7 linked regions of the Homo sapiens genome follow. The protein of the gene in region 7 purifies or fractionates together with the protein of the main gene of each other region. This does not show direct contact. Each region holds a gene or a part of one and is shown on either strand. Other genes may lie near its edges. The genes, in order: CAT, TPI1, IVNS1ABP, RIPK2, PARK7, L1TD1 and ENO1.

Evidence for each region.
Region 1: the proteins of ENO1 (region 7) and CAT fractionate together in Homo sapiens (co-fractionation; one large-scale study listed by BioGRID). This does not show direct contact.
Region 2: the proteins of ENO1 (region 7) and TPI1 fractionate together in Homo sapiens (co-fractionation; 4 studies listed by BioGRID, with this or other methods). This does not show direct contact.
Region 3: the proteins of ENO1 (region 7) and IVNS1ABP purify together in Homo sapiens (affinity purification with western blotting; 2 studies listed by BioGRID, with this or other methods). This does not show direct contact.
Region 4: the proteins of ENO1 (region 7) and RIPK2 purify together in Homo sapiens (tandem affinity purification; one large-scale study listed by IntAct). This does not show direct contact.
Region 5: the proteins of ENO1 (region 7) and PARK7 fractionate together in Homo sapiens (co-fractionation; 3 studies listed by BioGRID). This does not show direct contact.
Region 6: the proteins of ENO1 (region 7) and L1TD1 purify together in Homo sapiens (co-immunoprecipitation; one large-scale study listed by IntAct). This does not show direct contact.

What each region holds. Positions count from the first base shown.
Region 1 is NC_000011.10:34,455,475-34,459,555, reverse strand, and holds part of CAT (catalase), read right to left. Parts: intron 3,546-4,081; coding exon 3,354-3,545; intron 2,892-3,353; coding exon 2,739-2,891; intron 1-2,738. UniProt on the Homo sapiens protein: Catalyzes the degradation of hydrogen peroxide (H(2)O(2)) generated by peroxisomal oxidases to water and oxygen, thereby protecting cells from the toxic effects of hydrogen peroxide.
Region 2 is NC_000012.12:6,865,844-6,870,615, forward strand, and holds the start of TPI1 (triosephosphate isomerase), read left to right. Parts: upstream 1-1,723; coding exon 1,724-1,838; intron 1,839-2,261; exon of another isoform or gene 2,262-2,666; intron 2,667-3,020; coding exon 3,021-3,144; intron 3,145-3,255; coding exon 3,256-3,340; intron 3,341-3,414; coding exon 3,415-3,547; intron 3,548-3,844; coding exon 3,845-3,930; intron 3,931-4,205; coding exon 4,206-4,293; intron 4,294-4,421; coding exon 4,422-4,540; 3' UTR 4,541-4,772. Other genes in the region: USP5 (ubiquitin carboxyl-terminal hydrolase 5), read left to right, coding at 141-234. UniProt on the Homo sapiens protein: Triosephosphate isomerase is an extremely efficient metabolic enzyme that catalyzes the interconversion between dihydroxyacetone phosphate (DHAP) and D-glyceraldehyde-3-phosphate (G3P) in glycolysis and gluconeogenesis.
Region 3 is NC_000001.11:185,295,307-185,298,065, forward strand, and holds the end of IVNS1ABP (influenza virus NS1A-binding protein), read right to left. Parts: coding exon 2,729-2,759; 3' UTR 1,082-2,728; downstream 1-1,081. UniProt on the Homo sapiens protein: Involved in many cell functions, including pre-mRNA splicing, the aryl hydrocarbon receptor (AHR) pathway, F-actin organization and protein ubiquitination.
Region 4 is NC_000008.11:89,771,194-89,775,274, reverse strand, and holds part of RIPK2 (receptor-interacting serine/threonine-protein kinase 2), read right to left. Parts: intron 3,535-4,081; coding exon 3,485-3,534; intron 2,609-3,484; coding exon 2,447-2,608; intron 1-2,446.
Region 5 is NC_000001.11:7,964,401-7,968,481, reverse strand, and holds part of PARK7 (Parkinson disease protein 7), read right to left. Parts: intron 3,159-4,081; coding exon 3,057-3,158; intron 1-3,056. UniProt on the Homo sapiens protein: Multifunctional protein with controversial molecular function which plays an important role in cell protection against oxidative stress and cell death acting as oxidative stress sensor and redox-sensitive chaperone and protease.
Region 6 is NC_000001.11:62,197,403-62,201,483, forward strand, and holds part of L1TD1 (LINE-1 type transposase domain-containing protein 1), read left to right. Parts: intron 1-4,081.
Region 7 is NC_000001.11:8,864,988-8,869,068, reverse strand, and holds part of ENO1 (alpha-enolase), read left to right. Parts: intron 1-1,011; coding exon 1,012-1,081; intron 1,082-1,818; coding exon 1,819-1,952; intron 1,953-2,478; exon of another isoform or gene 2,479-2,567; coding exon 2,568-2,790; intron 2,791-3,586; coding exon 3,587-3,784; intron 3,785-4,081. UniProt on the Homo sapiens protein: Glycolytic enzyme the catalyzes the conversion of 2-phosphoglycerate to phosphoenolpyruvate. In addition to glycolysis, involved in various processes such as growth control, hypoxia tolerance and allergic responses.

The sequences.
Region 1 (4,081 bases), on a different chromosome or scaffold from region 7:
TCCAACTCTTGGCAAAATGCAGAGAATGAGAGCAAGAAAGGCTGCACCTGTGTCCTCAGGTACTCAGGGGACAGGACAGTCTCTCTATGACTTGTATTATATTATTTGTCCATTTCACCATGGTGTGGCTCACCACTTTGGATAAAGTTATAAAACTTAATAACATGACCTTGTTAAAAGGCACCTGTAAACACTGCCCATTAATATATCAACCGCCACTGCCTAGGCTACAATACTCATGAGCTCTCAGCAGGAATAACCCCAAAGCCCCCCTAACTGGCTTTCCACTTCCTGTCCAACAAGACAATCTACATATTCCCTACTCACCTACTCAAAAAATCTCAAATCATTCCTTAATGGTCACCAAATGGCTAAATGAGTACAACAGTCCTTCCCCAACTGTATGGCTCCTCACAGGCTCCATGGTATTGGAACTGATAGCTAAATGACCTAAGAAGGATGGGGGAAAGCTAGGCTAGAAACAATAACTCGACAAACTTATGAAAGCTCTTTCGAACAGTTTCTAAAACTCATTTAAAAAAAAAACAACCTATAAAGAGTACACTGAATTTAAAATAGATATATTTGCCAGAACTAAAATTAATACTAACAGAAATTATATTACTTTCTACTTGTCATCCTTTTTCAGAACTCTCTTCCCCACTGTTTGAATAGCTGCCTTAGACATTTGCTTTCTTAGGAATGTAGAGAATACGTATTTGCTTTGCAGTCCTTTTCCCGGGGGCCTAGTTCTCCATTCAAATCTTCATTGTTCTTCAAATTATATGACTCAGTGCTGCTGACTGCCTCACGGTCCCACTGTGGTTCCAGAGACCCATGGTGACTTGGATTCTTGTGAAAAGAGTTTAGGTAACCTTGTATTCCTCAATCCGTTCCCTCCCTGGGTAACCAGGGTTATGCAGCCTCTGCTCTGCCCATGACAATTTCATGCCTTGGCAAATCCCATTAGCCTCATCCTCTCACAGTTCAGCCACCAGGTAGGGAGTTTTAGGGCCCAGGATTACCTTGTTTTGGCTTCCTCTACTCCCTGGTTTCAATGCAAACTTCTGCTTTTCCTCTGAGAACTGCCTGACTTTCCTTTTGCTATTCCCAATCCCTAGTTGTCGCTTTTTCTATTTATCACCAAGAGGAGTGATTCTACTCAATATATCCCAGACCACACTTCTCAAAACTGAAGAAAGCTTTTCACTCCTACTCAAGCATTTAAGGTCCCCTCTGACATATACTCAATGAACCTACCCAAACTCTATTCTTCTCATTCAGGAGAGAGTGACTGTTTATAGTTTCAACACACCTAACATGTCCCACCTTTGTGCCTATACTCATGTCCTTCTCCTGCCGCATTTTACCTACTAAAAATCAAAATCCTATCTATTCTTCAAAACAATCTCAAATGCTACCTCGTTCATGAAACTTCGTGGCTGACCTCCTATCAGACAAAATTTTGCTTTCTGGATCACCATGGCATTCTGCCTTACATTATGGCACCCAAGACAGTCCACCATACACAACAGACAGGTACTCAATTTGTAACAGTTGAATTGGACTAAAAACTAATGAAAAACTTACTTTCTATAAAAGCCTCAGATGTTCCCCAATGTCATAAGCAAAAAAGTTATTTTTTAAAAACGGAATCTTAGCTTGTCCTCCATGCAGACTGAAACCTGAACTGGAATCAGATACTTACATAAGAAGTAACCTTCAGTCGCTGTGGTCTGATTTAGGGTACAATCTTTAACCTTTGTTTCAAGGTCACAGTCTAAAACCACAAAAGATTGATTTATACAGTAATTATTAAGCCAATTATTTTCTTACTGATTCTGATCCAAAGTACAATTTTTCACTCTTGGTACTCTTGAAAGAGATATTAAAAAGTGATGTAAAACATACTGATGGCTTAACATTAGCAAGGTGAATGGTTAATCCACTGCTTTTATCACTGGCAGCATACATGTAGTTCATAAAGATCATCCCTAGATCTCTTTTTACAAATGGAAAAATTCAAGCATCACCATGAAACAGAAAATGAGGCCAGCCACGGTGGCTCACGCCTATAATCCAGCACTTTGGGAGGCGGAGGCAGGCAGATCACTTGAGGTCAGGAGTTTGAGACCAGCCTGGCCAACAGGGTGAAACCCCGTCTCTACTAAAAATACAAAAATTAGCTGGGCATGGTGGCGGGCGCCTGTAGCTAATCAAGAGGCTGAGGCAGGAGGATCGCTTGAACCTGGGAGGCGGAGGTTGCAGTGAGCCGAGATCATGCCACTGCACTCCAGCCTGGGCGACAGAGCAAGACTCTGTCACAAAAAAAAAAAAAAAAAAAAAAAAAAGAACAAGAAAATAAAGTTAGGCTTACCAAGGTATTATAATTAATTAACCATACTTCAGCTACAGACAGAACAAACCATGCTTCACTCTATCAATACTTAAGGTATTTCTATTATGTCTTTTTTTTTTAATTAAGAGAGTAAGTATTCTTGTCTTCACATATGTAGGGATCTTACCATGGACTTTTGTTTATACTTGGTTTACTCAAGGAATGCTCATTGAAGAATAGTTCACCTCAGTGAATCCCACAAGGTAACCAAGCACCCAGATTAAAGTTTAAGTAATGTTCTTGTTAATTCCTCACATAAAGATCATGCCAAGCTGCATATTTTGTGTGTGCATGCTCACATGGACACCTGCCTCAGAACATCTCAATCCACCAGGCTCACCTGAAGCATTTTGTCAGGACTGGCCTCAATGCCAGGTGGCATGTTGCTTGGGTCGAAGGCTATCTGTTCAACCTCAGCAAAGTAATTAACTGGATTCCGGTTTAAGACCAGTTTACCAACTGGGATGAGAGGGTAGTCCTTGTGAGGCCAAACCTGAAAATGATGTCATATTCACAATTACCAGGCAATCAACTGAAGGAAATCAAAGCTACCCACAAAAATACCAGATTTCAAATACAATCAAGCCAATGAAAATAATTTTTAAATCCAATAAAACATAAGAATTTAAGATGAGTGCCTTAGTTAAATCTTTCACAATAGTAAGTGGTAAATACTGACAGTTTCCCCAGGAAAAAGTACATCAGCTTTTCATAATCTGTTCCCTGTTAATAACAATATATGAAGCCACATACACATACTCAATGAAATGACAAACAGGAACGTGGAAGTAAGATGCTGGTAAGCACTCATTCACAGCTTAGGACACTCTGAAGTGGTACCCTCTGTATTTTGTATATGACTTCCCCATTATTATAATTGTTTGACTAGATTTTTTTTCTAATTAGGTAAGAAGAGACTTAAAAAAGAAAACAATATAGTTGTTTACTGACTCACCTTGGTGAGATCGAATGGATTAAATGGAAAAGTTTCTGCCTGATTAAATGTCATGACCTGGATGTAAAAAGTCCAGGAGGGGTACTTTCCTGTGGCAATGGCGTTAAAAAGATCCCGGATGCCATAGTCAGGATCTTCCTGGGAAAGTCTCGCCGCATCTTCAACAGAAAGGTTTTTGATGCCCTGGTCAGTCTACAAAATGAAAGAAAGAAGCTCCAATGGAAACTTATTGTCAAAGTTATCAAAATTTCATCAGTAATTCATTGAAGGATTATGAGTAACACTGCCCAAAGAATGAACTTTCTTTACAACAATACTTCTATTGTTCAAATCTGATACTAATGAATTTATCAACAAGAAATTCTACTTGATTATCCCAATACTTTTAAATGTCAAGGGAATCCCATCTACACATTTCATATTTAAAATCAGTCCTATCTTTCCCTTTATGTATTCTATTATTTGAATTTTTACACTCATGTTACTTTCCAAATCAGAAAAATCAAAATATACTTAAAAGTAGGCAAAAGATTAATAAAATTAAAGGACTACTTGCCTTTTATCATGAAGTAATGTTTTAATTCCATTTCATGACAGCTCAAATCAATTACTGAGACTGTGCTCGGCCAGTATCCCTTCACCCCTGTCCTATTCCTTTTTTTTTTTTTTTTAATAAATCATAGAATCATAGCTCATAGAGTTGAAAAGAACTTCAGTACAGCCACCTG
Region 2 (4,772 bases), on a different chromosome or scaffold from region 7:
CACATGGTGGCTGGGCTGTGGATTTGGGGTATGGGCAGAGAGTGTGGAGAGCACTTCCAGGGGCCATGTCTGAGAGACTACATGATGCCACTTTGAATGCCCAGTTTGTTCATCCTTTTCTGTTTTCCCCACTTCCCCAGATGGGTGATCTACAATGACCAGAAAGTGTGTGCCTCCGAGAAGCCGCCCAAGGACCTGGGCTACATCTACTTCTACCAGAGAGTGGCCAGCTAAGAGCCTGCCTCACCCCTTACCAATGAGGGCAGGGGAAGACCACCTGGCATGAGGGAGAGGGGCTGAGGGATGGACTTCAGCCCCTCTGCTCTGTACCCTTTTTCCTTTTGTCCCCGGCAGCAGGGAAGAAGCTGGAGGCCGTGGGAGAATGGCTGGGCAGAGCAGAGGGGCAGCGATAGACTCTGGGGATGGAGCAGGACGGGGACGGGAGGGGCCGGCCACCTGTCTGTAAGGAGACTTTGTTGCTTCCCCTGCCCCCGGAATCCACAGTGCTCTGCTTCTCTGTGTCGCCCCGCCCAGCCCCCTGGTGTGGAGGGAGGGGTCTCGTTTGTGCGCGTGGGTGTAGCTTTGTGCATCCTCTCCCAGTGGAGCGATCACCTGTGCCTCCCCTCCCCCTTTGTTTGCCCCTGTGTGGTTGGTCAAGGAGGGATGTGAGGGAAATAGGGACCCCCCGACTTGCCCTCCTGCCTCAGTCTTTCCCCCACCCTGTCTCTTCCTTGTCCTTCTCTGGAAAATGCCAAAATACACGATGTGAATAAAAGTACAACGGCTAAATTGTGTCCTGTTTGATACCTTGGGGGAGAGGCTTACCTTCCTGGGGTTAGCAGGAGGGCGCTTAAGAAAACTCCTAACTCTGGCCGCCTCCCTGCCAAAGTCAAGTCTCCACTTTTCACTGGTTCTAGAGCTCTAGGAAAATTGGGGTTGGGTGGGGAGGTGGAGTAGAGTGACTAAATGCCGACACAAAGCCAAGGAAAGATGGAGTGAAGAACCCTTCCCTCTCTTTATTCACACAGGAGTGGAGGATTTCCCAAATGTCCCTAACTGGCTAGCTGGCTTCAGGCTGGGACTCAGTCCCTGCAGTTCCTGCCAGGCCTTGCCAGCCGGGGCGAGGGTTGGGATGATCCTGGCGGCCTATGCCTGTGTGGGCTGCCCCTCCCGCTGTGAACCCTGCATTTGTCCCGCAAGTTTTCACTCAGGTAGACTCCCTGGGTACAAGGGTGCCTGCTCAGCAGTCGGGCATGAGCTGCTCCGATGGGCGAAGGAGGTTGTCTATCCCACAGTTGGAGAGGGGCCCTCTCTGCCCCAGTGGGCGATCTGGGCTACGGCCAAGTTGCCACCAGCTAGTTCCGCTTGAAAACCACTTCTGGCCCCGTGGGGGACTCAAGTCGCCAAGCGAGGGTTCCCCTGAGCGCCGGAGCTCACAGGTCTCGCCTTGTCCCGAAAGCCCCGCAATCGAGGCGGAGGCGACCGAGCCCCCGACTCTCCTAGAACGTTGCCACAAGAAGGGGGAACGTCGGAACAGTGCATCATCGGGCGGCGGCCGGGGCGGCGGCAGGAGGGCGGGCGGGGGGCAGGGCTCCGGGGGACTGGGCGGGCCATGGCGGAGGACGGCGAGGAGGCGGAGTTCCACTTCGCGGCGCTCTATATAAGTGGGCAGTGGCCGCGACTGCGCGCAGACACTGACCTTCAGCGCCTCGGCTCCAGCGCCATGGCGCCCTCCAGGAAGTTCTTCGTTGGGGGAAACTGGAAGATGAACGGGCGGAAGCAGAGTCTGGGGGAGCTCATCGGCACTCTGAACGCGGCCAAGGTGCCGGCCGACACCGGTAAGCCCTCGCCGAGGAGGGGTCTGGCCGGGCCGGGGCCGGGGCCGGGGCAGGAGTGGCAGCGCCCTCTCCCGAGGCCCCGAGGCCCCGAGGCCGGTATCCGCGCGGACCTGATGCAGGGCTGTGGGACGAGGGCCGCTGGGGTCCGGGCAGGGGCCTCGCAGCCGCAGCCCCGTCGGTGCGTCGAGGGGGCAGGGCGGAGCACATGATGCCCCTTGGACTATGGGGCAGGTAAGGACGTTTTGGGTCTCCTGGAGGAAGGTGGCCCCGGGGCGCGCACTGGGGCTGTGCCCGCCAGGCGACGGGGTTAGGAGCGGAGCCCGAGGCTCTGCGGGAGACCGGGGGAGGCTGGGCCGCGTGGGCTTCCCGCTCCCTGCGCCCTGGCCTCCCGCGCCGTGCGCCGCCGCACGTAGCCCCAGACTCCTCCCCTTCCTCGCCGGCGTCCGCGTCCCCGCGCCGAGCTGCTCGGGCTCCCTGAGCCCCAGATCTGACCCCTTCCCTTCGGCAACCTGAACGACTCCCGCCTTCCACGGAAGGGACCGAGCCCGTGCCAAACAGGCTGAGCGATTTGGGAGTGAGGAGCCATCCTACCGCTTTCCCCAACCTGGAAACAGCAAAGCGCAAGGCCTCTGAGTCAGTTAGGTCTCTGCCACCCACGGGCAAAGGATGCTCTCCTCCATCCTCCTTCCTCCCTCCACCGAAATCGGAGAGCCGCGGGCCTGATCCAAAGAGGCATCCCCTTCTCGTTCATTCCCCAGAGGCCTCAATACAAACCCCAGGAGTTGGCCCCTCTCCTTTTGCTACAAATCCTTGCCTTGCAAAGGGGAGGTGAGGATGGGCTATTTTAGAAGGGAAGCAGGGTTGCTCCCTGGAGAATGCTGAGTCTGTGAGGTGCCTATGCCGAGAATAGCTCGAGGAAATTGGAGCCCCAGCTGTTAAAAGAGCAGAGGGCAGGGTGAGGGCCGTGGCCTCTCAGGGGTATCTGGAAGGCTCTTCGAGTTGAGTGCAGACCCAGCCTGGGCTGGAAAATGGACAAAGGTCATCTTGCTGGGGTGAAAAGGGGGAGAGCAGAACCAAGAAGAAGAGGGTGAGGGCTGGGGGGCTCCAGGGCACTGGTTAGGAATTGTGGGGAATGAAGGCTTTCTTTAGTCTCATCCCCCTGTGGTACCATCTTGTCCTCAGAGGTGGTTTGTGCTCCCCCTACTGCCTATATCGACTTCGCCCGGCAGAAGCTAGATCCCAAGATTGCTGTGGCTGCGCAGAACTGCTACAAAGTGACTAATGGGGCTTTTACTGGGGAGATCAGGTGAGATCGAGGTGGAGAGGGGTGTGTGGGACCCTTCCCTCACTTTCCTCGTTGAGGGGAAAGCCACAGGGTGGGCTCCCTGCTGAACCTTGGCTTCATCTCTTCCTTTAGCCCTGGCATGATCAAAGACTGCGGAGCCACGTGGGTGGTCCTGGGGCACTCAGAGAGAAGGCATGTCTTTGGGGAGTCAGATGAGGTTAGTAGCCAAGAGAGAAGATAAGGGATGTCTTTTTCCAAGAAGGATGTCTCACCAAGTCTGTTTCTCAACAGCTGATTGGGCAGAAAGTGGCCCATGCTCTGGCAGAGGGACTCGGAGTAATCGCCTGCATTGGGGAGAAGCTAGATGAAAGGGAAGCTGGCATCACTGAGAAGGTTGTTTTCGAGCAGACAAAGGTCATCGCAGGTATCTCTGGAGAAAGGGACCTTTGAGCCTATCCAGGGCCACAGAGACTCAGAGGGTAGGGTCAGGCCCTGGAGCCTGTCTTGGTCCCCATGCTGATCCAGAAAAGGAAAAAGGGGAGGGGGAGTGACAATCTTTGCTTGGGGCCTATGACTTCTCCAGCCCCAAGGTAGATGCCACCTGGAAATCCCCCAATGTCCACTAGGGGGCAGTAGGCCACCGTTCTTCGTACTCCGGAGAACCTGGCTGGAGAGCTCTTTCTTGTTCACCCTTCCCTCCATCTGTATCTCTGCCCTGCAGATAACGTGAAGGACTGGAGCAAGGTCGTCCTGGCCTATGAGCCTGTGTGGGCCATTGGTACTGGCAAGACTGCAACACCCCAACAGGTAACCGGGCCCAGGAGCCCTGCCCTCATCCCAGCCTGCCTCAATAGGTTTGGACAGACACAGCCCACATGGGGCAACCCCTTATTTCAAAGACACAGAGACCTTGAACCCAGAGACAGTGACTTGTCCAAGGGCATCCAGTCCAGGGCCTGGCTTGGATCAGAGCCCTGGTACTCTGACTCAGTCAGAAACCACACTAAGTGTCCACTGGTGCCAGTGATTTTTCCTCTTAGAGAGGCAGAAAAGGTCTTACTTAGGCCAGCTTCTTGTTCTAGGCCCAGGAAGTACACGAGAAGCTCCGAGGATGGCTGAAGTCCAACGTCTCTGATGCGGTGGCTCAGAGCACCCGTATCATTTATGGAGGTGAGTGGCTTTGGTTCCCGGCTGAGGTGGAGTGGGCTGAGGACTAGACTGAGCCCTCGGACATGGAGGTGGGGATGGGGCAGACTCATCCCATTCTTGACCAAGCCCTTGTTCTGCTCCCTTCCCAGGCTCTGTGACTGGGGCAACCTGCAAGGAGCTGGCCAGCCAGCCTGATGTGGATGGCTTCCTTGTGGGTGGTGCTTCCCTCAAGCCCGAATTCGTGGACATCATCAATGCCAAACAATGAGCCCCATCCATCTTCCCTACCCTTCCTGCCAAGCCAGGGACTAAGCAGCCCAGAAGCCCAGTAACTGCCCTTTCCCTGCATATGCTTCTGATGGTGTCATCTGCTCCTTCCTGTGGCCTCATCCAAACTGTATCTTCCTTTACTGTTTATATCTTCACCCTGTAATGGTTGGGACCAGGCCAATCCCTTCTCCACTTACTATAATGGTTGGAACTAAACGTCACCAAGGTGG
Region 3 (2,759 bases), about 180 Mb from region 7:
CTGTTTATAAACTCTACTTGTTCAAAGTGTCATTAATATTCTTGAGAAACTGGCAGTTTTATTATGAAGGATATCTGCAATTCATAGCAATTACTCCTTTTTAACCTAGAGACACTGATTTAACTTAATAAAACCTGTTTATAGGATGAAACTTGTAGCTCAGTCTTACCAAGGATTTAAGGATTCATATATGAGTGTTTTTCTTTCTCCTTTACACCTAGTTAATTAACCTTGTATCTTATGTCTCACTTGCTGACTCTTCAGACCTTTTTTTTTTGGAACAAAAAGCAGCTGCGTGTAAATTACGACAGCAACTGAATTTTCCATGAATCATATTCACTTTTCTGAAGGCAACTCTGCATGCAGTTACAGAAATGTCCTACTGGGGCTCCTCCTTTGCCTACTTCAATTTTAAGAATTCTGAGGTCAGGAGAGGTAATAGGGCACACACCTAATTTGTTAATTAAGCAAGGATTCTAATGATATATCACATACTCAAATCCTGGATTTTCCCTAAAATATGATTATTATATTGGGAATTTGAAAACATGTTGAGCAGTGGTAAAGTACATGACACACTAGAAGCCAAAAATCAGAACCCTACATTTAAAGTTCATAATAAAAGATCCACCCGAGTATAACCAATAATATTTGGTTTAGATATTTTATAGCTTTTCTACCTTTTTAGGAAATTTAGAGTGTTTTATTAAGTTGACCAGAAGTGTGGTATTATCAATATTATTTTGAAACTATTCAAAAATTCCTACTGGTTAAAAAGCTTTTTTTTTTTTTTAAATTGTGCTGAGGCTATGCCATTTTCTCCCTCTCTGAAGAAAGTATGTACCTTTTAGATACAGATTAACAGTAACAAATGGCCACTGAGCACTGCTTTTTTTCCTTTATGGAAACTTCTCATGTTCATGCAGACTAGCTACAACAGCTTCTTAAAAAAAGATACTTTTTGGCCACCAAACTACCTCTTTGGCATCCAAGGTAATGCAGGAAAACTTTGACCCAAAGTATTCCCATATATTATTTGCATTAAGCATGTCACTTATGAAATGAGAAGTGATCTCAAGGATTTTAGTGCTGAATCCTCAACTAAAATTTTATTTCCTTGTGCTGAATAGAACACATACAGATCCATATTAAAAACAGTCATCATATTAGGCAAATTCAATCTGTCAATGTAGTTTTAGTCCAGAACCAAACCAGTGATAGTTAGGAATTACAGAGTTACCAACCAAACTGATTTGCTTTCCTGGTGGTTCTTTGTGTAACAGATGAGAGAAATAAAGTGGCAGAGTACCAGTGAACATTTGGAGAAAATACCTAATTATTTTCTTCCTAACCCAAGTTAGCCACTGAATAGTCATCTCAGAATAGTCACCTCATCCCAGTTGGCCCATTAGGTTCCTGTGTGCTTCATCTTCTGTGAGAAAAAAAAACCTTATATCATTCCTTATTTCAGATGTAAGATGCCAGGTGAGTTATTTTCCACAAATTTCTTAAGCTCATTACTGGAAAAAAAAATTTCTCAAAACTTTTAGTAATGAATGAGTGTACAAGCAGCAATTGGATATTAATCCCATGGTGCAAGGATTTCCTGCAAAGTACCTTTAATGTGTTTAAATCAGCAGCAAGCATTAGGACATGCTATTTTGGCCCCATAAGTTAGGTGTGTAGCACTACACATTAGACACCAAGTCATCCCAACCAATATTTATCCATATGAACAGATAAACTGAACAAAAACATAGTTCTGATAAAACCTGCATTCACAACCTAATGTAGTTTAAAGTAAATTTTTTCACAATTGAGGGCTGCTATTTAGGACTGTTTTGTTAATAATAAAAACAGGAATTATATAGAAGATAAAACACCATTTTTTACTGCTATATAATGTCTTGCTATATAAAACATACCCTCAACAAGTCAAAATATTTAAAACCAGTGTTTCAAATACCAAAAATCACAGCTATGTTACTGTTCAGTAACTCCACTCAAATAAATGTTAGTACTGCATTCTTGAAGGAAAAAAACTGCAGCCAAGGCAAGAACTCTGAAGTTTGCACTCAGAGTTTAAAAGACAGACCCCTACTCTGCAAACTGAAGACTGCCACTCTGCTTCAATAACTCCAGCCTGCCACATTTTACTTCAATTGGTAAAGCACTCTGCTGAGAATATAAAAAGTTATAAAAAGGCAATCATAAAAGATTAAATATTGGTAGGCATGTAAGCTTCCTTTTAATAAAAACAAAAATAGTCAATGTCATCTATTTAAATAAGTATCCTTTGTTATAGAGTGTTCCAGTTATTGAAAAAGGGCCCTTAAAAAACCCAACTGTCTACATCTTTAAACCCTACCCCTTTTACCCCATAGTACACATTTGAGGGAAGAGTCATTTAATGTGCAAATTGGCAAAACAAATGTGGAGGAGAGGGGACTTCTTGAAATGATGTGCCCAATCAATTCTTGGTTTATTCTTTTCCAAAAAGTAAAATAACCAAAGTCTTAAAAGTACACAAAACAGACCTTCATCTTTGCATTCCTTTCCAAATAAACCCAAAAAGTATGTACAGCATGTTTAATAGTATGCAATATGCAAAAGCTTTGTGTTGCTGTTAGCAACATCTATACCCACCCACCCTCTTTATTCACAAGTGTACCTCTACTAACCATAATTACATCACTAAGCCTGTTAGTTTGAGAGGGTCTTAAATTTGTTAAAACTGGAAAATCTTTGTATAGGGGCTC
Region 4 (4,081 bases), on a different chromosome or scaffold from region 7:
GTTGAGACAAGGTGTTGCTGTGTTGCCTAGGCTGGTCTGGAACTCCAGAACTCAAGTAATCCCTCTGCCTTGGTCTCCCAAAGTGCTGGGATTACAGGCATGGGCCACTGTGCCTGGCCATAGGAAAAAATTTTGACCCCATATCATCCTTTAGCTATCACCTCATTTTTTTCTGCTTCTGTTCAGAGCCAAGCATCTTGCTGGAATTTTCCATATTTGCCTTCACTTCTTTCTATTTTTTTTAAATGTACATCAGTCTTCTGTTTACATCTCTCTATTAAAACTCCATTTGTTTGGATTACCGGTGATGACAATGTTGGAAAATCCTGCTTATCTCATTTGGCCTCCTGGCAGATTAAACATGTCCGACTATACCCCTCCTTGACTTCCAAGACACAAGGACTACACTCTCTACTGTCTTCTCTTCCTTAATCCTTTTTCTTCTTCCTCTTCTCAATTTCTAAGTGCTGGAATGCCTCAGAGCTTTACTATGGGTCCTCTCTTTGCTATGTATATTCCCTTCTTAGATGAACCAGTCCAGACTATCAATATGTTAGTGATGTTCAATTTTATATTAGGATCCTGGACTCTTCCTGGAACAACAGATTCATGTATTGTTGTAGTAGTAGCAGCAGTAATTATGACCGTTTCTACTTGCTGGCTATTATAAACAATGCTGCTATCACTAATCACATACAACTGTGTGAACATATGTTTTCATTTCTCTTGGTTTACCTGTTAGTGGATTGCTTGGTTGTATGGTAAATTTATCTTTCATTTTTAAGAAACTGCCAAACCGTTTTCCAAAGTGGCAGCATCATTTTATATTCCCACCAACAATGTATACGGATTTTGGTTCTGCCACATCACTGTCAACACTTGTTATTTTCTGTCTTTAATTATAGCTATTTTGTGGGTATGAAGTGGTAACTCATTGCAGTTTTAATTTGCATTTCCAAATGACTAATAATATTAAGCATCATTTTATGTGCTTTTTAGCTATTTGTATATCTCCCTTGGTGAAATTCAAATCTTTTACTCATTTAAAAATAGGGCTATATGTCCTATTATTGACTTGTCAGGGTTTTTTATATATTCTAGAATCAAGCCCTTTAGCAGATACATGTTATGCAAATATTTTCTCCCAGTCTGTGGCTCTGCTTTTTTTTTTCCTTCTTGGAAATGAGGTCTTGCTATGTTGCCCAGGTTGGAGTGCAGTAGCTATTCATAGGCACGATCACAGTGCACTATTACACATCCTCAAACTCCTGGGCTCAAGTGATCCTCCTGCCTCAGCCTCCTAAGTACCTGGGACTAAAGTCGTGGACACTAAATGCCTGGCTTTCTCTTTTCTCAATAGTACCTTTCGAAGTGGAAAAGTTTCCAATGTTTGCAAAGTCTGATTATAAATTTTTTAATGAATCCTATTTATTTTTGATGTCATATTTAAAGATTCTGCCTAACCCTAGGTCATGAAGATTTTCTCCTACATTTACATTTGGATGTCTGATCCATTCTACCTCTGAAATACTATCTTAATTCTGTAACTCTTCTGTCTTCAGAATTTCCACCTTAATTAGAATATTCCTGAAAGTGTCTTTTCTAGCCTCTTTGCTTCCACTTTTGTCTTTCTCCAATCAACTTTCCACACAGCAGTAAGAATTTCACCTAAACTTCTATCAGATCATGTCACTTCCCTGCAAAAGATACTTTAATGGCTTTCCATTGCACTTGGAATAAAAATCTAACCTTTTTATGATGGCCAATAGCCTCTCTCTTAACTCTCCAATATCATCTAATTCCTTTCCTTGCTCACTGTATTCCAGCCACACAGGCCTTCTCACTGTTTCTTGAGAATATAAAACTTTTTCCTCTTCTAGGCTCAGAGCCTTTATGCTTGCTGTTTTGTTTGGCTGAATACTCTTTCTTCAGCATTTGAATGACTGGCTCTTTTTCAAGCTTCAAATGTCAGCTCAAATGTTTGCCCCTAAAAAAAGGCCTTTGTTTCCCTCCCTTAATTAGTCTATTACCTTGCTTATTTCCTTATAAGACTGTCACAATTTGTGTATCTTGCTTATTTATTTGTTTTCACTCTGCCTTCTCAACTAGAATGTGAACTAGCTACAGAAAGTTTGTCTTGTTTACTACTCTGTTCCCAGGGCTCACTCCAGTATATACATAGCACATGGTAGGGGTTTAAGACATATTTGTTAAATATATGAAAGAAATTGTTACTCCTATCACACGATTTCTCTTTTTTGTTAGGAATTCTCAATTCTGCTCTAGAAGGAGTTACTCATATATAAATGCTATGATAAGACAGAAAATAATTTAAACAACTTCTAGCTAGTCATCTAATTTGCACAATTTTTCAAGGAATATTTTATTCACAGTATATTAACTAATTCTGTAATTCAAAGAGTCTAGGTTAAAACTATATACTCACTTAAGAAAGATGGTCTTTCATCTGGATTTTGTGCCCATCCACTTTCTATTAGAGAGATCATACGTGCTCGGTGAGGTATATCATATGGCAAACTTTCTTCATTAATAACAGGTCGATGTCCTTGTGACACACTATACATTATCTGCAAAGGATTGGTGACATCTGTCAAAACAAATAGATTGCATTCATTAGTAATATATTATGATTAAGCATATTACTTACATCTAAAACTAACTAAAAGAAAATAAGTGAATATTGAAATTTTAGGAATGATGCCTTACCCCCCTTTCTGTAAAAGGAATATATATACCCCAAACCATTGCCAGACTTGTCTGATTCCTATGGAATGAGTTTATATCCTCACCTCATTAATTTTGGGCTTGACCATGTGATTGGATTTGGTCAACAGAGTATTTGTAAAGCAGAGCTGAGCGAAACCTTGCAGAACTAAGAAGGGCTACAGCAACCAATATTTAATGTGAATGAGAAATAAATGTTTATTTCATAAGCTACGGAGATTCCGAGGTTGTTTTTTGTTACACAACAAGCTGACCTACACAAACCTCAAAATAAAGAAATAAACAATATTTTCAGGGAATAAAAAGGACAGATTAGTCTTCGATATTTGCTAGTCTTTATAGAGGGGGTAGTAATTAAATTATCATATAAATAATTTTACAGCTAGACTAGAACTTGGAAATAGTAATTTAAAATTCTTATTATGCAGGCGACAAAAATGAGGACGCAAGAGATTTGTGACTTGATCACAGAGCTAATTACTGTCAGAACAAGAATTAAAATCTGGGTTTTTCTGATCCTTAATCCAGTACATTTTCCAGTATATAGTAGACTCACAACTGGATCCTTAACCCGGTATATTTTGCAGTATGTGATGCATTCACAACTGATAAATGGTTGTTTTAGTGTGTTTTCCACAAAATGAATAAGCAGATTTAAAATAACATGATTTTTAGATAGTTCTGAGAGTGACCTACTAACATGATGTTATTGAGCATAAAAAAGTCAAACCATACTTACCTTCAAAAGGCTGTTTTCTGGATAACACTTCCCATGTGATAACTGCATAGCTGTTTAACATAAGAACATACATGTTACATATTTTAAATGAACTCTGCATAATAAACTAAAATAGCACTATTTTTAAAAGCTGACTGAAGATACCATTTTTCAAAGTGATAAGGCAGCAAAGAATTACTGTATACAATGAAGATGATAAATGCTCATGTAGTTTGGAAACAAAATCAACTTTAAGTTAAAAAATTAGGAAATTACTGTAATACAAGCTTAACGTTACATGCAAGATTAACTTTTTGTGGATGATTTAATTCTTGGACACCCAGATAAGCTATGCCCTTTAATTAAATGATATTATTTTTCACAAAGAACAAAGAACAAGAAAAAAATTGTCTCATGGAGCTCTATTCTACTGCCTTTTTTCTGCTCTCAGCACTATCTTCTTTGGTAGTAGAAATATCTTGCCTACAGTTTAACTTCAGATGTCAATTACAGGGTTAAGCTGCATAGAGTTTATAATTAGAATAAATGGTTAAATAGGATATAAGAATTTTGCCACACCCCAACATTAACCATGCATTCAAAATGGACACATAGAAT
Region 5 (4,081 bases), 900 kb from region 7:
AATTTTTCTTAACTTTATGAAAAATGTAACGGGGGGAGAATTTTAGTATCCCCCCCAAAAAATCCTAGAAATCAAATTAATTTCAAACTTCCTGAAATTACAAAACGGAAATTGTTTTAACAATACTTTAGGACTTTTTATTTATTTATTTATTTTTCTTTTCTTTTTTTTTTTTTTTTGAGACAGAGTCTTGCTCTGTCACCCAGGTTAGAGTGCAGTGATCTCAGCTCACTGCAACTTCCGTCTCCCGGATTCAAGCGATTCTCCTGCCTCAGCCTCCCAAGCAACTGGGATTACAGGTACCCACCACTGTGCCCGGCTAATCTGTGTATTTTTAGTAAAGATGGGGTTTCACCCTCTTGACCAGGCTGGTCTCAAACTCCTGACCTCGTGATACACCCATCTCGGCCTCCCAAAGTGCTGGGATTACAGGCGTGAACCACTGTGGCCGGCCAACAATACTTTAGTACTTTAAAAAGTGGTTAAAAAAAATCTAGTCATTAAACAAATTACAAAATAAAAATGTATTATGTATTTAGTGCAACCTATAAAATTTTTTTAGAGAGAAGCCCTCACCTCTGTCACCCAGGCTAGAGTGCAGTGATGCAATCGTGGCTCACTACAGCCTTGAACTCCTGGGCTCAAGCAACTCTCCCACTTCAGCCTCTGCAGGAGCTAGGACTACAGGCATGCACCACCACAGCCAGCTAATTTTTTTTATTTTTGTAGAGACAGGGTCTCGCTTCATTGCCCAGGCTAGTCTCAAAACTCCTGGGCTCAGGTAATCCTCCTGCCTCAGCCTCACAAAGTGCTAGGATTTCAGGTGTGAACCACTATGGCTGGCTTAGAATCACTTTTAAGACCATAAACATCCTACCGTTGATTCAAAACCAAGCAAAGCTCAAAACTCAAAAGAAAATGTGTAAAGTATAGAATTTATTTTACTCCTTTTAGAATCTGCACTGAAAAATAAAAACACACAAAAGGTAACCACTTCCTTAAAAAACTACAGTAAATGGAACTACCATATGGTCCAGCAATCCCACTACTTGGCATGTATCCAATGGAAAGGAAATCAGTATACTGAAGAGACACCTGCACTCCCTTGTTTACTACACCAACAGTCACACTAGCCAACATACGAAATCAACCTAGGTCCAACAACAGATGAATGCATAAAGAAAATGTGGCATTTATACACAATGGGATACTATCCAGCCATAAAAAAGAATGAAATCTTGTCATTTGTGGCTACAAGAATGGAACTAGAGAACATTATATTAAGTGAAAGAAGCCAGGAATAGCAAATTAAACACTCCATGTTCTCACTCATATGTGAAAGCTAAAAAAAAATTGATCACATAGAAGCATAATGTAGGACAGAGGATACTAGAGGCTGGGGAGGATAGGAGAAAGTGGGGATAGGGAGAGATTTGTTAAAAGATACAAAATTATAGCTAGATAGGAGGAATAGGTTCTGGTGTTCTATACCCCCGTAGAATGACTATAGTTAACAATCATATATAGTTTCAAATAGCAAGGAGGATATTGAACGTTCCCAACACAAAGAAATGTTTGAGATGATGGATATGCTAATTACTCTGATCCGATCACTATATATTATGCATGGAAACATCACAAATCCCATGAATATGTACACTTATTATCTGTCGATTGAAAATAAAGGTAACCACTGTTTTAAAATGCCCAGACATCATATGACAAAAACACAAACAGAGATGAAAAAAAGTATTATTATTATTTTTGAGACAGGGTCTCGCTCTGTCACCCAGGCTGAAGGGCAATGGCACAATCACAGTTCACTGCTGTCTCAAATTCCTGGGCTCAAGCAACCGTCTAGGCTCAAGTGATCCTCTTGCCTCAGCCTCTTAAGTAGCTAGAACTACAGGCATGCACCACCACACCTGGCTTTTACAAATTTTTAATTTAAAGAGAAACGGTCTCGCTATGTTGCCCAGGCTGGTCTCAAACTCCTGGTCCCAAGTGATCCTCCCACTTTGGCCTCCAAAAGTGCTGGGATTACAGGTGAGCCACTGCACTTGGCCTGGAATACTTACTTCTGCTTGTCATTTTTAATTTGTTTCAACAAATCACATGTAAATACCAACAGTCTAATTTTCTACAATCCAGTAATGAAAAATCTAAACTTATTAGAAAGGATTAAACTTTTTCCTATGTATCTGAGGACAGCTCGGCCCAGGGAACCGCACTCCAGGTTCCTCAGCAGTGTGCAACCAGCCATCTGTGAGCCGACTCTGCCTCCTTTCCTGCCATGACCCTGCTGTCAGAGGGTACAGTCCACACTCCTGTCACGCTGACCGCACGACGGAGTGTGCAAAAGCGCCTGTGGGGGAGCATGTTTCTGAGGAAAGGGATGCTAGCTTCCAAAAGTGTCCATCGTCCTTAAAGGTAAGAGCCATAATTCCAACGATACTGAAAAAACAACACAACTACAGTGGAACTCTGAAAGTATCTTTAGAAAAAATAATGGCCGGGCATGGCACATGCCTGTAGTCCGAGCTACGTGGGGGGTTGAGGTGGGAGGATTGCTTGAACCTGGGAGGTTGAGGCTGCAGTGAGCTGTGACTGCACCACTGGACTCCAGCCTAGGGGAGAGAGTGGGACCATTCCTCTAAACAAAAATAATAATAATAAAAAATGGAAAATGTGGCAGTTGATTTATGTCAGGTAAAAATGTGTAATAGGAGGCAAGGATGCCTGTGTAAGCCAGAAAAATACTGATGGGAAAACAATGCAGCCATCCATCTAAGCACCAACCCACCCATCTGGCCACACATCCAACCGGCCACCTACCCATCCAGCCACCCACTTACTAAGCACATTCTGTATCAAGCAATTGCCACATTCTACAGATACAGAATAGAAAGACAAAGTCCTCACCCTCTTAATCTGTCAGGGGAAGACATTCAAGCAAAATAATTTTCTAAAATGAGTCTGTGCTAACAACACTCTTAAGACATTTCAAGAAACAAAGAAGCCATATGAAGGAATAACTCCATGTATGGATTACAAACCTCTTTTTTTGCATCTTCAAGGCTGGCATCAGGACAAATGACCACATCACGGCTACACTGTACTGGGTCTTTTCCAGCCAGGCCTGCAACGGTGACCTTAATCTACGAGAAAGATGTTATCATATTTAAGAACACTGAAACATAAATTCAGAGTAACACTGTCTTTAAAAAAAAAGAAAAAAGAGAGATGGGGTCTCACCCTGTCACCTGGGCTAGAGGGCAGTGACACAATCATAGCTTACTGCAGCCTCCAGCTCCTGGGCTCAAATGATCCTCCTGCTTCAGCCTCCCAAGTAGCTGGGATTACAGACATGAGCCACCACACCCAGCTAGAGTAACGTTTACACAGCTGCCCTGTGTTTGAAAGTAACATGACAGGAAATACTGCACCACAACTATACCAAATTTAAGCTAATACACTGGCTAAATATATTTAATAACTAGGTCTACCCTGGTTTGCCCGGGACAGACCCTACTTATAGCTGCTGCCCTGTACTCTGTGGGACTGGAACACCCTTTCTCCCACAAATGTTCTGGTTTGGGTGACCAGTTATATGATCATCCTATTAATAACTCATCTTGCAAGTTTACTGTTGCCATTTAAACCTCATGGTATTTTTGTAAAATAGAAATGCAAGTCCAAACAACGAAATACTGCTTTATCTTTCAAAAATTTTTAAAGTCAACAATACCAAGAGCTGGCACTGGGAAAGTGGGAATTTTCCTACACTGCTGGTGGGACTACAAACTGGGACACTGGAGAGCAACTTGGCAAAACCTAGTCATGCTGACTACAGGCTATCCTTCGGCCTAGTCATTCTACTTTTAGATATATAACCTGGAAAAATTTCCTCACATTTGCACAAAGAAACCTACACAAGAATACGTATTACAGAATTGTAATGCTGTAATTAGAGGAATGGGTAGATTGTGGCATTCAGTGCAACACCAAGCAGCAATTTTAAGTGGATAAACTTAATCGACATGTATCTTCATTTCTGAGAACCAGAGGAGTATAGGGTTAA
Region 6 (4,081 bases), about 53 Mb from region 7:
ATATATATATATATATATATATATATATATAGTTTAGTCCTGCTACTCAATCTTGTTTAGTAGTAGGTTAAGAAGCTCATATATTCCAAATTTTTTATTATCTAAAAAAGTTTTTTAGAGATGGTTTTGCTATGTTGCACAGGCTGGTCTCAAATTCCTGGCCTCAAGTGCTCCTGCTGCCCCGAAAGGTGCTGGGATTACAGGCTTGAGCCACCGCACCCAGCCCAGCACTTTGGGAGGCCGAGGTGGGCGGATCACCTGAGGTCTGGAGCTGGAGACCAGCCTGGCCAACATGGTGAAGCCCCATCCCTAAAAATACAAAAATTAGCTGGGTGCAGTGGTGCACGCTTGTAGTCCCAGCTACTCGGGAGGCTGAGGCAGGAGAATCACTTGAACCTGGGAAGCGGGGGTTGCAGTGAGCTGAGATTGTGCCACCTGCACTTCAGCCTGGGCGACAGTGAGACTCTGTCTCAAAAACAGAAGAAAACAAAACAAAACAAAACAAAACCCTGTAAATTACTTGAATGCCCACTGCTGAGGGAATTACTTATTGAACCAAAATATGTTCAAAATATGGCATGTCACACATAGAAGAGTGAGGTGTGCATATATAACTGGAAGATTACAAATGGCCTATTGAAAAAAAGAAAATAGTGTTAAAAGTATAAAGCTATTAAAAAAAAGTAAATGTCCCCATACCCAAGGAGAGAGACGTACTAACTAGAAGTCGAAGTTGGCATTCTCCTTTATTGTCCTCCCATGCACCCATAAAAACCAGGCACTTTATCTTGGTATGGTAGCATGCCTGTAATACCAGCTCCTCAGGAGACTGAGGTGAGAGGATCACTTGGTCCCTGGAGTTTGTGACCAGCGAACAGTGATCACACCACTGCTTGCCACGCTGGGCGAGAGTGAGATCTCAAAAAAAAAAGCAAAAACACAAAAGTCACCTGTACGTTGTGAGAGATACCACACCAAACTTTGGGTGGCCTCAGAGGTCAGATAATAGAGACTGAGGTGAGGGACTAGTAATTGTTCTTATTTAAAAAAAAAAAAAAGAAGAAAAGAGAAGTCCATAATCCCCCCAGCAAATTCAGAAAAACACACACACCGACCCCCCGCCGCCGCCCCACCCCGCCGATAAGAACAGGCTGCCAGTGTTGAAAAGGTAATACACCACAAAGGAAATGCAAGCAGATAAACATATGAAAAGATGGCAGTCACAAGCCAAGGCAATGCAAATCAACAAGCTTTTTTCCATCCCTAAAATTAAAGGAAGTTTATCCGCCCTCCCAACCCCCAGTCCCTTGAGGGAAGTGCTAAACATTTCTTGCCCTTTCCAACCGGTGCTCTCCTGTATTGTATACTTTTAAAGTAACCTCCTTAAAATACAAAGCAGAACTTGGGAGTACACTGGTGAAAATCTCCGGTCTCCCTAATCACTTTTTTTTTTTTGGCAGGGTCTTGCTCTGTCACCCAGGCTGGAATGCAGTGATGCAATCATAGCTTAGAGTAACCTTGAACTCCTGGGCTCAAATAATCTGACCGCCTCAGCCTCCCAAGTAGCTGGGACTGCAGGCAGAAGCCAGGACGTCTGGTCCCTGAGCCCTTTTGATGGCTACCATCCAACCCTGAGACAAAATTTGCTAAACTTGTACCAGCCTCTGCTTTCTTCTTGATCAGGGATTTTGAACCCAGAGTGCCTGGGTAGTGTCTGGCTAGAATTCAGAGTATCTGATATCTTGGATGTGAAAAAGGTCACATATATTTATTGTCATTAAACGCTAATCATAATTTAGCATTTAGCATTTGAGGCTGGGAGCAGTGGCTCATGTTTGTAATCTCAGCACTTTGGGAGGCTGAGGCAGGTGGATCACCTGAGGTCAGGAGTTTGAAACCAGCCTGGCCAACATGGTGAAACCCCGTCTCTACTAAAAATACAAAAATTAGCCGGGCATGGTGGCGTGTGCCTGTTGTCCCAGCAACTCAGGAGGCTGAGGCGGGAGAATCGCTTGAACCCAGGAGGCAGAGTTTGCAGTGAGCCAAGATTGTGCCACTGCACTCCAGCCTAATCCACAGAGTGAGACTCTTGTATCAAAAAAAAAAAAAAATCAGCATTTGATACAGTTAACAACAAATAATAAATCCCACCGTGCCCGGCTGTAATTTTCAGTTTTAAGCCAGGCATGGTGGTGCGTGCTTGTATTCCCAGCTACTCAGGAGGCTGAGACAGGAGTTTGAGTGTAGCCTCGGCAACATCGCAAGACCCTGTCTCTTTTAAAAAAAATAACTTAATTTCGAGTTTCTCATTGCACCTGTCATGTACTATAGAGTGACTCTTGGAAAACACATTACCCAAAAAAGGTAGTGTTAGATAATAGGGCACTGGCCAGATTAATTACTGAAAAGGTCAAAAAATCCCCAGGGTCACTATGAATGTGGCCAGGGTGGATATTTGCCCCTGCACTGGCTGTAATCAGGGTGTTCAAACACTGGAATGTGTTTTGATTTGCATTCTCCTGACTAATATAATCTTTTTGTGTTTACTGTACATATGGTTTTTGTATATGTGTTTACAAAATTGGATTGTACTCTATATTTTCTGCACCATTTTTTCCCTCTAGTATACCAAAGACATCCTTAACCAATGGGTATGATTCTAATATACTCTTATTATGTATGGTATAATTTTTATATGTACGTTGAACATATTGTATGCACCATATAGAGTATATATATCATAACATGGTGTATATATATATAACAATGTATATTATGGTTATGATTATTTGAGACGGAGTTTCACTCTTGTTGCCCAGGTTGGAGTGCAATGGCGTGGTCTCAGCTCACTGCAACCTCCGCCTCCCGCATTCAAGCAATTGTCTTGCCTCAACCTCCCGAGTAGCTGGTGGAGCCCGCCACCACGCCTGGCTAATTTTTGTATTTTTAGTAGAGACGGGGTTTCACCATGTTGGCCAGGCTGGTCTTGAACACCTGACCTCAGATGATCCGCCTGCCTTGGCCTTCCAAAGTGCAGGAATTACAGGCGTGAGCCACTGTGCCTGGCCATAATGTATATTATAATGTATATTTTATAAATTAATGTATTTATGTACTTATATATAGTTATATCTATTCTATATAATCCCATCGTGTGCATAAATCATCATTTGTTCCACCCTTCTCTTATTAAAGGACATTGTTTTCTAGTATTTTTTGGCCAGAAAAAACTCAGTACTAAAATTTCTATTCATGTATTCCTAAGTGTACAGGTGGTTTCATTCCTAATGGTAGATTCTCAAGGGGAGAGTATATGTATTATTTCTGACTTTAATAATAGGCTTTTCGTTTCCTGAAATGTTTAATAACTATTCCTACTTCTGATGGGTAAAAGTGGTCTCATTGTTTTTTTATTATGTACTCAACTCCTGGGATTGGGCCACCTTTCACATGTTTACTATTGATTTACATTGTCTTTCCTAAAAATATTTTATTTAGTTTTAGTTTATTTGTTTTATTTTATTTTTATTTTTACTTTTTTTTTGAGATGGAGTCTTGCTCGCTCTGTTGCCCAGGCTGTAGTGCAGTGGCGTTAACCCTAATTCAACCTCTGTCTACCGAGGTCAAGTGATTCTCCTGTCTCAGCCTCTGGAATAGCTGGGATTACAGGTGCCCGCCATCATGCCCAGCTAATTTTTGTATTTTTAGTAGAGACAGGGTTTCACCATGTTGGCCAGGCTGGTCTGGAACTGCTGACCTCAGGTGATCTGCCCTCCTCAACTTCCCAAAGTGCTGGGATTACAGGCATAAGCCACTGCAACCGGCCTCAAGTACATTTATTGTAGCGTTTATTGGACACAATAAAGGCACAATTGTTATCAGAAAAATTTGTCCTTATGTGCCTGTAGAAGTTTACCCTTGTTTTCAGCTTTCTGTGTCATCTTGGCAAGTCAAGTAGAAGTCTATTTCACCAGGGAGAGCTCAGTGGTTTTCCTTAAGGATTTTCAGTTTAAAAAAAAATATTAGAAGCATTATCAGGCTAGACCCGGTGCCACTGCACTCCAACCTCGGCGAGTGAGAC
Region 7 (4,081 bases):
ATTTTTTTATATCAAGCACATCATAGATAAAAATAATGCCTTGTTATTAATATATTAGTTTAAAATGGAATGCTGATTTTTGGCTGGGTGCAGTGGCTAACGCCTGTAATTCCAACACTTTAGGAGGACTTTAGGAGGCTGAGGTGGGCAGATCCCTTGAGGCCAGGAGTTTGAGACCAGCCTGGGCAACATGGCAAAGCCCATCTCTATAAAAAAAAAATATAAAAATTAGCCAGGCATGATGGTGCATGCCTATAGTCCCAGCTGAGTTTGGAGGATCATTTGAGCCCACGAGGTGGAGGTTGCAGTGAGCTGAGATCGTGACACTGCATTCCTGCCTTGGCAACAGAATGAGACTCTGTCTTAAAAAATAAAAATTAAAAAATTAAAAAGTAATACTGATTTTTATTGGATTACTTTGAGCCAGTTCTCAGTACGTCAGTTTTGTTACTTTATAGTCTCATCAAAAATTCATTTTGATCCATCATTAGACGCTTTGCTAAATGATTTCGGACTACCTGCAGAAATCATGCCTCCCATCAGAGGATGAAGATTTGCCATCTTTGCAGTTAGCCAAGAGTGAGCAGCAGAGCCTGCCTTTCAAGGGCTCAGCCTGCTTGAGTGAACAGTGAGCTTTGCTTATTTATTGCCTATGAAAGCCATGTTCCTGGGTAGCAGTGGTCTACATAGCACATACCTGACAGTTCTCTTGGGTGTAAAGTCACTTTGGGCTCCCTGGGTAGACTATTAACCTTTTGTTACAAAAGCATTGTCTGAGAGTGCCATCTCTGTTGCATTGTTGGGTGAATGCCTGATAACCATCAAAGCAAGCAGAAGGCAGTTTTTTGTCTCCCCACTGATTTTTGTCCTCCACTTTTTTTGCTTATAAAACAAACATCACAGAATTGATTTTGATATTACACAGTTCCAAAGTCAGATTCCATGGTAGGGGAGCAAAGGCTATGCAGATAAGAGTGGCCCCAACCCCTCATTCTCCCCTCTCCCTCGTAGAAACTGAACGTCACAGAACAAGAGAAGATTGACAAACTGATGATCGAGATGGATGGAACAGAAAATAAATGTGAGTGGCCTGAGGTGGCGTCTTTACTGGGGAAGATCATGAAGTCTCCTGAAGATTTTAAAACCTTTCAGGAAGAGGCCCATGATCTTAGTGATGAGCTACATGAGCCTGTGGTCTCTTCCCATTTCTTTGCTTTACTCTTAAGAAATCACACTTTTGGCCAGGTGCGGTGGCTCACGCCTGTAATCCCAACACTTTAGGAGGCTGAGGCAGGTGGATCACGAGGTCAGGAGATCGAGACCATCCTGGCCAACGTGGTGAAACCCCGTCTCCACTAAAAAATACAAAAAATTAGCCAGGCCTGGTGGTGGGCGCCTGTAGTCCCAGCAGGAGAATGGTCCCGGGCGGAGCTTGCAGTAAGCCAAGATCCTGCCGCTGCACTGCAGCCTGGGCAATAGAGTGAGACTCTGTCTCAAAAAAAAAGAAAAAAAAAAATTTTTTTTGAATATCAGGTGCAAAACCAGGTGACAATAGCCTGTCAGTTTGGTTACTCAGAAGAGCTTTGCTCCTTATAATGAATTCAGCAATTCCTACTGTTGGCTGGAGTTGGGCTCTGTCTTAGAGGGGAAAAGCAGTGGTGAGTCCACATAGAATGCTATTTGTATTTCTAGTAACAGTGAAATGGAGGTGTGATGGGGGAGGAGATGGTGCAGAATACAACCCTCAGGGCAGTACAGCAGGAGAAAAGCTGGTGAATCAGAAATGACTTCATTCCACTCGGTTCTCTTCTGTTCTAGCTAAGTTTGGTGCGAACGCCATTCTGGGGGTGTCCCTTGCCGTCTGCAAAGCTGGTGCCGTTGAGAAGGGGGTCCCCCTGTACCGCCACATCGCTGACTTGGCTGGCAACTCTGAAGTCATCCTGCCAGTCCCGGTGAGTGGTTTATTGGAACTTCCCAAGCAAGGAGTTGGGGGTTTCAGCTTGCTGTTGGGGACCCGAGACCTCCTATGCCTTGATATCCTAACACATGTGACTCTCCCAGCACAGCTCTGCCCCTTGTTAAGTGTGACCTTGAGCAGGTAACTCAACTTGCCTGTGCCCCAGGTCCTTTATCTGCAATGGAGGCTCGGGGAGGAAATGACAGCAGTACTTTCCTTGCTAGGCTGTGAGCATTACCTGACATAGTCACAAGTGTTTCTCCTGGTGATGATGAATTTGCAGTTATCAAAATAGACCTGGCGTGAACTGGTTGCAGTAGCGCACACCTGTAGTCCCAGCTAATCAAGAGGCTGAGGCAGGAGGATCACTTAAACCCAAGAGTTTGAGACCAGCCTCTAGGCAAGACCAGTATAGTGAAACCCTGTCTCTAAAAACATGAGTCAGAGACCTGGTGAGCATTTCACAGCACCCTGGCCCCTCTGGTGCTCCTCAAGAAGCAAGTCTTGGGCTCATCTGTGAGCTAGATTGGGATGGTAGGACCAGAGGGGCTTACTGCCCTGTGGGGCTCTCTGGACCCAGTGCCATGCTTCTCTGCTCTGCTCTCCCCAGGCGTTCAATGTCATCAATGGCGGTTCTCATGCTGGCAACAAGCTGGCCATGCAGGAGTTCATGATCCTCCCAGTCGGTGCAGCAAACTTCAGGGAAGCCATGCGCATTGGAGCAGAGGTTTACCACAACCTGAAGAATGTCATCAAGGAGAAATATGGGAAAGATGCCACCAATGTGGGGGATGAAGGCGGGTTTGCTCCCAACATCCTGGAGAATAAAGAAGGTAAAGGCGCTAGGGAACCGCCCCCCCACCCAGCCCTGCAGCGCCAGCTCCCTCTGTTGGGGGGTCGTCCACACCTGCCACTGTGGAAATCTATTCTTTCCACCTGTAGTTTGTAAAGATCAAGACCCTTCAAACGGTTTTAAGGAGGAAAAGGGGAGCTTCATTTTATTTTACTTATTTTTTTCTTTTTTTTTTTTTTTTTGAGATGGAGTCTCTGTCGCCCAGGCTGGAGTGCAGTGGCGCAATCTCGGCTCACTACAACTTCCGCCTCCTGGGCTCAAGTGATACCTACTAGTTTGGGGAGCCAAGTGTCTGTCCGTCTGTCCTGCTGGCAGGGCAGCTTAGCCATGGACAGCAGACCCTGAGCCTGAGCTCTCAACGGCACAGCCTGGCGGGAGGATCCTGCCATCCCGGGCTGCCTCCACTGGGCTTTCTCTTGGACCCCGCTTCTGCTCTATTTAAGGCCTGTGCCTTGGGACAGCTGATCTCAGCTGCTTACTGTAACTGTATCTTGGCCAGGACAGCTGTTCCTGGGCACTAAATTTGGGAGCATTTGTCAGTGAGAAGGGCTGCTTTCTTGGAAAGAGAGCTGAATTTCCCATTTTGTATGCACCAAGAACTCTGACCCATGGTTTCTTGCCCCAAAGCAGAAAAAAAGTAACTGATGTCAGAACTACTGGTTGGGGCCTGAACACCTGTTGATCTTTGTGTTACAGTCCCTGTGTAGCAGCTGTTGAAGGGAAGTTTTCTCTGTACCTACCTGTTTTCCAAACCTGTTGTCACCATCTCTTCCCAGGCCTGGAGCTGCTGAAGACTGCTATTGGGAAAGCTGGCTACACTGATAAGGTGGTCATCGGCATGGACGTAGCGGCCTCCGAGTTCTTCAGGTCTGGGAAGTATGACCTGGACTTCAAGTCTCCCGATGACCCCAGCAGGTACATCTCGCCTGACCAGCTGGCTGACCTGTACAAGTCCTTCATCAAGGACTACCCAGGTGAGTGTTCCCCGAGTGCCATCTCCCTTTCCTGCCACTGACCTGCAGCAGGGCAGCTGGAGCATCTGGCTGGCTGGTGATGGCTGCAAGGAGGGGATGGGGAGGGAGTGTCTGAACTTCCAGCTCCCGTAGGGGATTCACCACTGGGTTTGCCCCCAGTTGTGCATACACAGGGCTTCACAGAGGTTCTTGTGTAGCTAAGGAGCTCGGGTGCCAGCAGCGACATTGCATAATAAGTTGTTCACAGTCAGGAGCAGAGGCAGTCTGTGCTCCATTAGACAGGTGAGGGAACCAAGC